3 linked regions of the Homo sapiens genome follow. The protein of the gene in region 1 interacts with the protein of each later gene in a pairwise test. Each region holds a gene or a part of one and is shown in the gene's direction. Other genes may lie near its edges. The genes, in order: TNXB, TGFB1 and TFAP2A.

Region 1 (3,649 bases):
GCCTGTGCCACGTGGGCTATGGCGGTGAGGACTGCGGGCAGGAAGAGCCTCCAGCCAGCGCCTGCCCTGGAGGCTGCGGGCCCCGGGAACTGTGCCGGGCAGGCCAGTGTGTGTGTGTAGAGGGCTTCCGAGGCCCTGACTGTGCCATCCAGACATGCCCAGGGGACTGCCGTGGCCGAGGAGAGTGTCACGATGGCAGCTGTGTCTGCAAAGATGGGTATGCTGGCGAAGACTGCGGAGAAGGTGAGCAGGCAGCCTTCCCCAGTGTACTCTGGGACTGTGATTCTGTGAACAGGAGCCATGGGGAAGACCTGAGCCTGAGGAAGAGTGGAGGGAGAGCATGTCATTCCAAGGAGCCAGTGCCCACCAGGGGCAGCAGAACCACAGGGGTGGGGCTTTCCAGTGGGCAGGACTGGCCTTCAGATCTCTGAGGAGCAGGTTGGGGCCCATTTAGTTGCATTTAGGGAGATTCTGTGCTCCTGAAGATGGAGAGAAGGTGAAGGCGATCCAAGCCCCGTTCAGCCCTCTGTCAGCTATTCTCCACTAGCAGAGAGGAGTGGGAGTTAGGATGGGCCTCTTCGATGTCCCTGAGTAAAAGGGGCTGTGGGTGGGGGTGGTTGCCTTGTGCTAACCAGCTTTCCCTAACCCATTCTCTTGGGCAGAGGTGCCAACCATTGAGGGCATGAGGATGCATCTCTTGGAGGAGACAACAGTTCGGACAGAGTGGACCCCGGCTCCTGGCCCCGTGGATGCCTATGAAATTCAGTTCATCCCCACGGTGAGAGAGATGCCAGGCTCCAGGAGGGGACTGAGTGGGCAGGACAGGGGGGCAGGGCTCACCTCCTGGAGGAAGTTCCAGGTGATCATTGGTTGAGTCCAGATGGCTGGGTACCTGAAGCTGCTGTAAAGGCTTTCTTAGCCTGCTTGACACTGGGCACTGAGGCCTCTGCAGCATCTCCAGCAAGCATTGGTCCCACACAGTTGGAACACCTGGTAACAGAGAGCTCAGTACTTCCTGAGGCTGTCCAGTCCATTGTTGGTCATCACTGTTAGCTGTTATCATTGTTGCAGAATCCGTCTGCCCCTATTCTAGCACCTGTCCGTTGGCCCTAGCTGGGTATTCATCAGCAGCTGGAATGTTTTTTGCTTTCCCTGTGTCCTACACCACAGGCCTTCAGGTATTTGGAGACACCAGCCTGATGTCTTCATTCCTCAGGCAAAACCTCCCAGTTTCTTCGCCCCTTTTCCCTAAGTCTTTATTCTCTGAATCCTTTACCTTCCTGTGATTCTTGCTTTTTTCATGTGCCCCCAAAATGTGGGGACAGAGAGGGGCCCACTGACTTACTCTGAATTTATGGACACTTTTCTCAGAGCTGGCGTATAGCAATTTGTAGTCACACAAGCAGGCAGCTGTTTTGGTCATATTTGGTTTTTTAAGTAACTTTTAATTATAAAAGTAATATAGGCCCCGTGCAGAAAACTTAGAAAATACAGATTAGCAGGGAAAAAAGATGGAAGGAAAGAAGACAACATTCAACTATATACACTTTTTTTTTTTTCACCTAAATATAGGCCTTTGCATTTGGCCCTGTTCAATGTTATCTTTTTTGGTTTGGGCCAAGCTGTCTAGGCTGTTGCAATAATTTTGAGTCTGTGAACTTCATCTCCCACCTCCTTGTCATCAGTACATGCAAACCAGTTTTTTCTCTGTCTCCCTCCAACTTGCTCTTTTTTTTTTTTTTTTTTTTTTTTTTTTTTGAGACAGAGAGTCTCACTCTGTGGCCCAGGCTCGAGTGCAGTGGTGCCATCTCAGCTCACTGCAACCTCTGCATCCCAGGCTTAGGTCATCCTCTTACCTCAGCCTCCCAAGTAGCTGGGACTACAGGTGTGCACCACCTTAGCCTGCTAATGTTTGTATTTTTAGTAGAGACGGGGTTTCTCCATGTTGCATGCCCAGGCTGGTCCTGAACTCCTGGGCTCAAGTGATCTGCCCGCCTCAGCCTCCCAAAGTGCTGGGATTACAGGCATGAGCCACCACTCCTGGCCATCCAACTTGCTCTTAAAACATTAGAGGGAACACCCTAAGGACAAAGCCTTGTGGTCACTTATTTGGGGCCTCCCTTTGTGCAGACTGGGCTTTTAAGATATGGTCGTTTCCCCAGCTGCAAATCTTCTGACATTTCTACCATCCAACTCATGTTTTCCTGCATCATCCCACAAATGCCATATGGGGTGTGGGCCATGTCATCCTCATCTTCATCAGCTTAGCCAGGACTCTGTAAAAATAAACAACTCCCTGGGCCTAAAGCCTCGGAAGGCACTAGGACAGAAGGGGACAGCTCAGAGGAACTGTCATCCTCACTCCACTTTGCTTTGTCTTGTCATTATGCTCCTCAGGCCAGCCCCCTACTATGTTCTGCCTCTCCTCACTCTCCAGCCAAAGCAGAAGCAGAAATCTCAACTTCGTGGCGCAACCAAGATAGCTTGAATTTTTTCTTCTGTTTAAACATCTTTTTTTGTTGTTGTTATAAAAATACTTTAATCACGAGACAAGAATTTGGCAACTAGAGAAAAGAAAAACAATTCCTGGCTGCTCCTCACTAAAACAAGCACTGCTAACATTTTAAAGTGTTTCTCCCACTCTCTTCTTCTCTGTATATATTATTTACATAGCTCTAATCTTGAAAGGGTGGGACTTCGAAAAGGAAGTTTCTTAAGAAATTTCAGGGAAAGAAGAATTAAAATAAACACTTGAGATAAGAGGAGCTTTTAGGGCAGCAGTTGTCTCCTGCTCTGAGTAAATAAATACAAACCGATCCTTGGTGTTGTCAAGGGCGCCGCTTTCCAGTTGAAGCCCTAGACTTTCTCCCTCACTCAGAGCCAGGATGGTGGTGCCAAGTTGGCCTGTGCCAGGCTTGGCCATGTTCTTAGCTCATCCATTCTGCTCTCGGTATGGGCATCTGTCACATTCTGGGTCTTCTCTGAGCCTGGGTGTGGAAAACACTCCTGTAAAATTGGTCCCCAGACACTCCTCTTGGGCCTGGGCTACCCACCCTCAGACCATGCTTTCTGCTGTCTGTAGCTGGTCCCTGGCATCGTACCTTCTGCCTTGGCAAGTGCCATCTATTTCTTTTCTTTTCTTTCTTTCTTTTTTTTTTTTTTTGAGACAGAGTTTTGCTCTTGTTGCTCAGGCTGGAGTGCAATGGCGCAATCTCGGCTCACTGCAACCTCTGCTTCCCAGGTTCAAACGATTCTCCTGCCTCAGCCTCCCAAGTAGCTGGGATTACAGACACCTGCCACAATGCCCAGCTACCCTTTGTCCATTTCTGTGGGTACAGAGTATATTCAATAGCTGTCTGTCCTCTGGCTGCTGCTGTCATCCTAGAAGCCTATCTCTACCTCTTACCTTCCCTCTTCCCAGAAGCACTTCTCTCTCAAAGCCCAAACTCTGCTATTCCAGATCAAGGGACATACCTAGTTATTGGAATTATTTTTCAGAATGCAGAAGAAGAAAGTTTCTCCTCTCCCTGTATATGTGGCACTGTTACTCTGACTCAGTGGTTCTCAAAGTGTGTTCCCTGGACCTGCAGCATCAGCATCACCTGGGAGTATGTTAGGCATGCAAATTGTCAGACTCCCCCACTAGATC
Region 2 (3,649 bases), on another chromosome or scaffold:
GGGAGGCTGAGGTGGGCGGATCACAAGGTCAGGAGTTCGAGACCAGCCTGGCCAACATGGTGAAACCCTGTCTCTACTAAAAAGACAAAAAAATTAGCCGGGCATGGTGGCACACGCCTGTAATCCCAGCTACTCGGAAGGCTGAGGCAGGAGAATCGCTTGAACCTGGGAGGCGGAGGTTGCAGTGAGCCGAGATCATGCCACTGCACTCCAGCCTGGCAGACAGAGTGAGACTCTGTCTCAAAAAAAAAAAAAAAAAAAAATAGAAAAAAAAAGAAGAAATGAAGTGAAGGAACAAGCTGGAGTGGGTATCTGTGGGACTAGCAAGGCAGGCAGAGGGAACAGCAGATGCAGGAGCCCCGAAATAAGACTGTCTGAGGAACAGACAGGACGCCAGTGTGGCTGGAGTGGAGTAGGCGTGAGAGAGGGAGTTGAGATCAGCCAGATTTGATAGCACCTTGTGGCTCACGGTGAGGACTTGGGCATTTGCCGTGAGATGGAGCCAGGTTCAGAGCAGAGGAGTGACAAGACAATTTATAGCATGCCCATGGAGGGCAGAGATTTCTGTCTCTTTTTTAAAAAAATTGAAAAAAAATTTTGTAGAGACAGGGTCTTGCACTTTGTTGTCCAGGCTGGCATGCAGTGGTGTTATCATAGTTCACTGCAACCTCGAACTCCTCGACTCCAGCGATCCTCCCACTTCATCCTCCCAAAGTGCTGGGATTAAAGGTGTGAGCCACCATGCCTAGCCTATTTCTATCTGTTTCATTTGTCCTCAGTCCACAGTAGATCCCAGCCCAGCACACAGTAGTAGTTCAATAAACATTTGTTGCACAAATAGAGCAGATCAGTTTACATGGAGCTGTGTTATTTTGTATGTTCCAGGGTGTGGCATGCCATGATTTATTTAGCCCCCCCGTGGATGGTCATCTGGCTTCTTACAGGCTTGTCTTAAGCATTGCGTGAAATTAATTATTACATTGCTCTTAGCACTGGAGGAAGTGCTTAATCTGTGTTAGTGATTATCATGACTATTTGTGTTGTTATTAACACAGTGGGTGCAAGGGAGACCCAGATGGAGATAGGGCTGGGGGGGCAACCTAGGGTGACACACGCACCTGGGGAGGAGGGGCATGTGGCTTCTATGGTGGTAGCCCCTCCCTGCCCCTGACGCGTCTCTCCTGCCTGCAGCTCCACGGAGAAGAACTGCTGCGTGCGGCAGCTGTACATTGACTTCCGCAAGGACCTCGGCTGGAAGTGGATCCACGAGCCCAAGGGCTACCATGCCAACTTCTGCCTCGGGCCCTGCCCCTACATTTGGAGCCTGGACACGCAGTACAGCAAGGTACGTCTGGCCCACCGGGCTACGAGATGCGCTTGGGGGGAGCCAGGACGGAGGAAGAGGAGAGAGAAAGAGAAGTAAAGTCAGAGAGGTGAGTTGGCAGGATGGGGAGAAAGAGAGGGATGGGGTGGGGAGGGGAATGAATAAAGAGATGGGGAGAGAGGCAGGAAGCTAGAGAGGGGCTCTGAGCAGGGGCCAGAGGGAGATGAGCTATGAAGACCCACAGAGTGAAGTAACAGAGGGATGGGGGTGAAGGGGAGAAGAGAGACAGGGAGATGGAAGGAAAAACGCAGAAATGGAGAGACAAAATGAGAGAGACAGATACAGACACAGAGTTAGGCCAAGGAGAGACAAAGACAGATACACAACAAGGCAAGAGGCGAAGATGAGGAGGGACAGAGACTGAGAAAGAAAATCAGGCGGGCGCGGCGGCTCACGATGGTAATACCAACACTTTGGGACGCTGAAGCAGGAGGATCGCTTGAGCCCAGGAGTTCGAGAGTAGCCCAGGCAGCAGACTGAGATCCCATCTCTACCAAAAAAAAAAAAAAAAAAAAAAAAAAAGCTAGGAGTGGTGGCGCTTGCCTGTGGTTGGAGCTACTCCGGAGGCTGAGGCGGGAGGATGGCTTGCGCTCAGGAGGTTGAGGCTGCAGCGAGCCATGATCGTGCCACTATACTCCAGCCTGGGTGGCAGAGCGAGACCCAGTCTCAAAACAAAAAGAAAATCAGACAGGTGGGGAGAGACAGAATAAGATAGGATGTTAGAAGATAAGAGAGACCGAATTGGAGATGGGAAGAGGGGATGCGGGGAGAGACGAAGTGAGAGAGGCTGGCGCGGTAGCGGGTGGGGGATGGGGCAGTGGAGGGCCGTTTTCCTCCCTCCACGAGCCCTGAGCCCTGACCCCGCCCGCCGCCCGCAGGTCCTGGCCCTGTACAACCAGCATAACCCGGGCGCCTCGGCGGCGCCGTGCTGCGTGCCGCAGGCGCTGGAGCCGCTGCCCATCGTGTACTACGTGGGCCGCAAGCCCAAGGTGGAGCAGCTGTCCAACATGATCGTGCGCTCCTGCAAGTGCAGCTGAGGTCCCGCCCCGCCCCGCCCCGCCCCGGCAGGCCCGGCCCCACCCCGCCCCGCCCCCGCTGCCTTGCCCATGGGGGCTGTATTTAAGGACACCCGTGCCCCAAGCCCACCTGGGGCCCCATTAAAGATGGAGAGAGGACTGCGGATCTCTGTGTCATTGGGCGCCTGCCTGGGGTCTCCATCCCTGACGTTCCCCCACTCCCACTCCCTCTCTCTCCCTCTCTGCCTCCTCCTGCCTGTCTGCACTATTCCTTTGCCCGGCATCAAGGCACAGGGGACCAGTGGGGAACACTACTGTAGTTAGATCTATTTATTGAGCACCTTGGGCACTGTTGAAGTGCCTTACATTAATGAACTCATTCAGTCACCATAGCAACACTCTGAGATGCAGGGACTCTGATAACACCCATTTTAAAGGTGAGGAAACAAGCCCAGAGAGGTTAAGGGAGGAGTTCCTGCCCACCAGGAACCTGCTTTAGTGGGGGATAGTGAAGAAGACAATAAAAGATAGTAGTTCAGGCCAGGCGGGGTGGCTCACGCCTGTAATCCTAGCACTTTTGGGAGGCAGAGATGGGAGGATTACTTGAATCCAGGCATTTGAGACCAGCCTGGGTAACATAGTGAGACCCTATCTCTACAAAACACTTTTAAAAAATGTACACCTGTGGTCCCAGCTACTCTGGAGGCTAAGGTGGGAGGATCACTTGATCCTGGGAGGTCAAGGCTGCAGTGAGCCCTGACTGTGCCACTGTATGCCAGCCTGGGTGACAAAGCAAGACTCCATCTTTTTTTTATGTTTTTTTTTTGAGACGGATTTTCACTCTTGTTGCCCAGGCTGGAGTGCAATGTCGAGATCTTGGCTCACCACAACCTCTGCCTCCCGGGTTTAAGCGATTCTCCTGCCTCAGCCTCCCAAGTAGCTGGGTAGCTGGGATTACAGGCATGCGCCACCATGCTCGGCTAATTTTGTATTTTTTTTTAGTAGAGACGAAGTTTCACCATGTTGTTCAGGCTGGTCTCGAACTTCTGACCTGAGGTGATCCGCCCGCCTCGGCCTCCCAAAATGCTGAGATTACAAGCATGAGCCAGCGCACCCAGCCAAGACTGCATCTTTAAAAAAAAAAAAAAAAAAAGACTGGGCACGGTGGCTCACACCTGCAATCCCAGCACTTTGGGAGGCTGAGGCAGGGGGATCACTTGAGGTCAGGAGTTTGAGACCAGCCTGGACC
Region 3 (3,649 bases), about 22 Mb from region 1:
CCCACTCCGATTTGCTACACTGAGACTCCCGTCAATGGACTGCATTGAGAGCCGGCTCCGGCGCGAGTTGCCTCTCCGCTTCACGCTCGATTTCCAGGCATTCTTCCCTTATTAAGTATTCGTGTAATATTAATAGTCATGAATATCTGCTATTAGGAGGCTCCAGGAACGCTGCCCAGCGCGGTTATTAGAAGCTCAAGCGAAGCCGCCGCTAAGAAAAGAGGGGGAGACACGGATTAAGGAACACGCACGCACCCACACACTCACACATACTTTTTCCTTTTTCCTTTTTTGGGGTTTTTCATTTTTAAAGAACTTTGAATCATAACCAGTCGCGGCAGGATAGAGACCGTGGGTTCGACCAGCTGAAGGCGCCGCGCGAATCGGTGGTTCAAGTTCGGATGGATCCGAGCCGGGCTCCCGCGCTCCGGGGAGCGTCGGCGCCGTGACTGGAGTCCTGGGTGGCGCGGGGCTCTCGGCGCCTTTTGTGTGGGGCGCGCTCGGGCGGCGGGGCAGCCGGGCGCTCCAGGCTTGCTTGTTTTTTTCCACCCTGACTCGTTACCCCAGACTCTTCGCAGATGTTAGTTCACAGTTTTTCAGCCATGGTGAGTCCCATCCCCACCCCCGTTGCTGTTTCTTTAGGAATTGGATTCTGGAAACCTGGTGCCGTGGAGCTGCCCGAAACCTCGGGTTTCACGCCCAGCTTTCCTTCAGGACACCCTCTCCATTTGCATCCCCCACCCCACCTTCCGCCTTTCTCTCGCTCTTTTCCATCCCTAAATCGAGTGCATTACCCCCTACCCCAGCCCCCGCTCGACCTCTCCGAGCACGCAGACCTACCTCGCCGCGGCTTCCCAAGGCGTGTTTCTCCCCACGTTCATCTTGATTTCCTTGAGTCTTCACTTGTCCCCGAGATGTTCTCAACATTTGATGCTTAAACTGTCTGCAGGAAAAGTGCAGCGCGGTGTGCCCCCTACCCTCGGGACCTGCGGCCGAACCGCCGAGGGTTCGCGGTCTCTGGAATCAACTCTCTTCGCTTGTTTTGCAAGGGAATTGCAATAGAGAAACCTAAAGTCAGGCGTTTCTTCTGCCCTTTGGGGCTGGGGTGGAAGGGGCGGGGGGGGGGGGCCACAGCCCCGGGGTGCACCTCTCTCTTTTAAACCCAATAAGGCTGAATCTTTCTATTTTAAACCTTGACTTGACGTCCCCCTTTCCCTATCCAAACCATAAATCGACTCTGTCGAGAAAAAGGCTCCTAACAGAGGAAGCGAAAAAGACAGACCCCGATCCTGCAGTTAAAACCTTCTTTAAGCTGGTAATTTAAACGTGTGTTTTTGTTACAGCCCCTCTGCGAAATATGTTTCTATTTAAGTAGTCATGAAACGGTAACAGTCTTTGAACGTTTATGATTTTTTTCTCTCCAAATAAATGGAAGAGAATAAACAATAACGCAGTGGCAGACAGGTTCAAATCGGGGGAAAAGAAAAGGCCGCTTCTGCTGTTTAGTATTTAGGAGGAATTTTAATTTTGCTTAAGAGAGATTTCACGCTGCAGTTTAATGGGCTGTGTTCCAGGAGACCCTTTTCTATCTTTTCCTCTCTTTGAAAGAAACCCCTAAATAGTCTCTTGTGCCCCCTCCATATACAGTTTCTCTGCGTTGTTCGGTCTGTTTCACTTGAGGGTATTTCCTGAAAAGAACTTAGAGCTGATTTTTTCCCGGCGGCCAGCCAACGGGAACGGGCGATTTCCCACGCAGACTTGTCAAGTGGATTTTGTGTGGATAGTTGTAGCTCGACGCCTGATTCCTTGTTCTTTACCTTTCCTCTCGCTCTCTTCTAGGACCGTCACGACGGCACCAGCAACGGGACGGCACGGTTGCCCCAGCTGGGCACTGTAGGTCAATCTCCCTACACGAGCGCCCCGCCGCTGTCCCACACCCCCAATGCCGACTTCCAGCCCCCATACTTCCCCCCACCCTACCAGCCTATCTACCCCCAGTCGCAAGATCCTTACTCCCACGTCAACGACCCCTACAGCCTGAACCCCCTGCACGCCCAGCCGCAGCCGCAGCACCCAGGCTGGCCCGGCCAGAGGCAGAGCCAGGAGTCTGGGCTCCTGCACACGCACCGGGGGCTGCCTCACCAGCTGTCGGGCCTGGATCCTCGCAGGGACTACAGGCGGCACGAGGACCTCCTGCACGGCCCACACGCGCTCAGCTCAGGACTCGGAGACCTCTCGATCCACTCCTTACCTCACGCCATCGAGGAGGTCCCGGTAAGAGGCCGCGCAACCAGCGCGGGAGGGAACACAGCCCCCTACTTACCTACCCCAGAAAGGATACCTGGAACATACAGTCGGTGGGCCCGGGTTCTCCCTAGTATTTCCTTATAAAAACATTTTATTCGGAGGCGGAGAGTGAGGGACGTTTTGAGGAACCACACAAAGTAGTTGCGAGTTCTACCCCAGAACAATGGTTTCTGGAGCTCCCTCAAACAATGCCTGCATTACCATTTCCACCAACACAGATAAATCAGACGAATGTCACCATTAACAATATCTTCCTCTCGACGACAGTAAACTGTCTCAATTGCTAAAAGATCTACTTCCATCGCTGAGTCTGGCGTGGAGATTTCTCCCTGTCCTGGGAATGATGTTAAATGCAACCAAAAGAGCTCATTAAATGTCCTCAAAATGTAAAAGGAAGTGTAAAAGACACACTAAGATCATTTTAACCGGATTTTATAAGCACAAGTGAAACCTAAAAGTTATGTGTACACCCTATCCTGATTAAAGAAAAACTAAGTAGCAAATCCAAGCAGAGGGACATTAAAATGCAGCCTTCTTCTTACTAGGGGTGCTAAGTGGTGACCTCATAAATCATTAGCTAGGTTCCCAACGCCTATCAGAACCTGCTACACTCCATATTAAATTAAATGTTTCGAGACTATTGGGTAATACATTATTTGAGTTCTAATTTAGTTATCAATAAATGCAGTTTAAAATGATTTCTAAATAAGCATGGCATTAGCACATTTACTATTTACAATGCAAACCAGGCTATTGATAATTTGAAAATACTTTCTGGAATTAAACTTAAACCAGTACCTCTGCTTCAATTCTATATATTTATGGTTTCCTCACAACCCTCCTGAAATGGAATTAGAGCAAGCCAATAATTTTATTAAAGCTGTAAAGGCTTCTGTTAAAGCTGCTTTTCTTTGGAGAGGAAATGTATCTGGATGTGATTTTTACTAAAATGCTATTTCAAATTACTGCATCAAATATTGCAGCAGTATGTCCGTTGACAGTTTAATGATTACTACATTAGATTGTAAGGAAAATGGTCAGATGAACTTACCTCCTTGCTTGGTGAATTTAAAACATTATTTAAGTTCCGTAGGAAAATAGAAAATTTATTACATCTCTCATTTGGCCCAGTTAGTCACTGAAATTTGTTGGTTATGTTTAGCAGCCCTTGCATGGAAGGCAGGAAAGTGGGCACTTGATCCAGTATAAGGTTTAGTGAGCACTGTATGTCTGTATATGTGTGTTCATACTTACATGTTTTTAGAAACTGATACTTAACAGTGCATTTTTTTGGAAGTGAGAGGAGCACTAATTTATATAAGAGCAATTTAAACATGAACTG

Evidence for each region.
Region 2: the proteins of TNXB (region 1) and TGFB1 interact in binary tests that used the Homo sapiens proteins (3 or more experiments, as listed by UniProt).
Region 3: the proteins of TNXB (region 1) and TFAP2A interact in a two-hybrid assay, tested with the Homo sapiens proteins (one large-scale study listed by IntAct).

What each region holds. Positions count from the first base shown.
Region 1 is NC_000006.12:32,092,205-32,095,853, reverse strand, and holds part of TNXB (tenascin-X isoform 3 precursor), read left to right. Parts: coding exon 1-243; intron 244-662; coding exon 663-778; intron 779-3,649. UniProt on the Homo sapiens protein: Appears to mediate interactions between cells and the extracellular matrix. Substrate-adhesion molecule that appears to inhibit cell migration. Accelerates collagen fibril formation. May play a role in supporting the growth of epithelial tumors.
Region 2 is NC_000019.10:41,329,824-41,333,472, reverse strand, and holds the end of TGFB1 (transforming growth factor beta-1 proprotein preproprotein), read left to right. Parts: intron 1-1,191; coding exon 1,192-1,345; intron 1,346-2,262; coding exon 2,263-2,421; 3' UTR 2,422-3,150; downstream 3,151-3,649. UniProt on the Homo sapiens protein: Transforming growth factor beta-1 proprotein: Precursor of the Latency-associated peptide (LAP) and Transforming growth factor beta-1 (TGF-beta-1) chains, which constitute the regulatory and active subunit of TGF-beta-1, respectively.
Region 3 is NC_000006.12:10,408,526-10,412,174, reverse strand, and holds part of TFAP2A (transcription factor AP-2-alpha), read left to right. Parts: exon of another isoform or gene 1-578; coding exon of another isoform or gene 579-605; intron 606-1,839; coding exon 1,840-2,274; intron 2,275-3,649.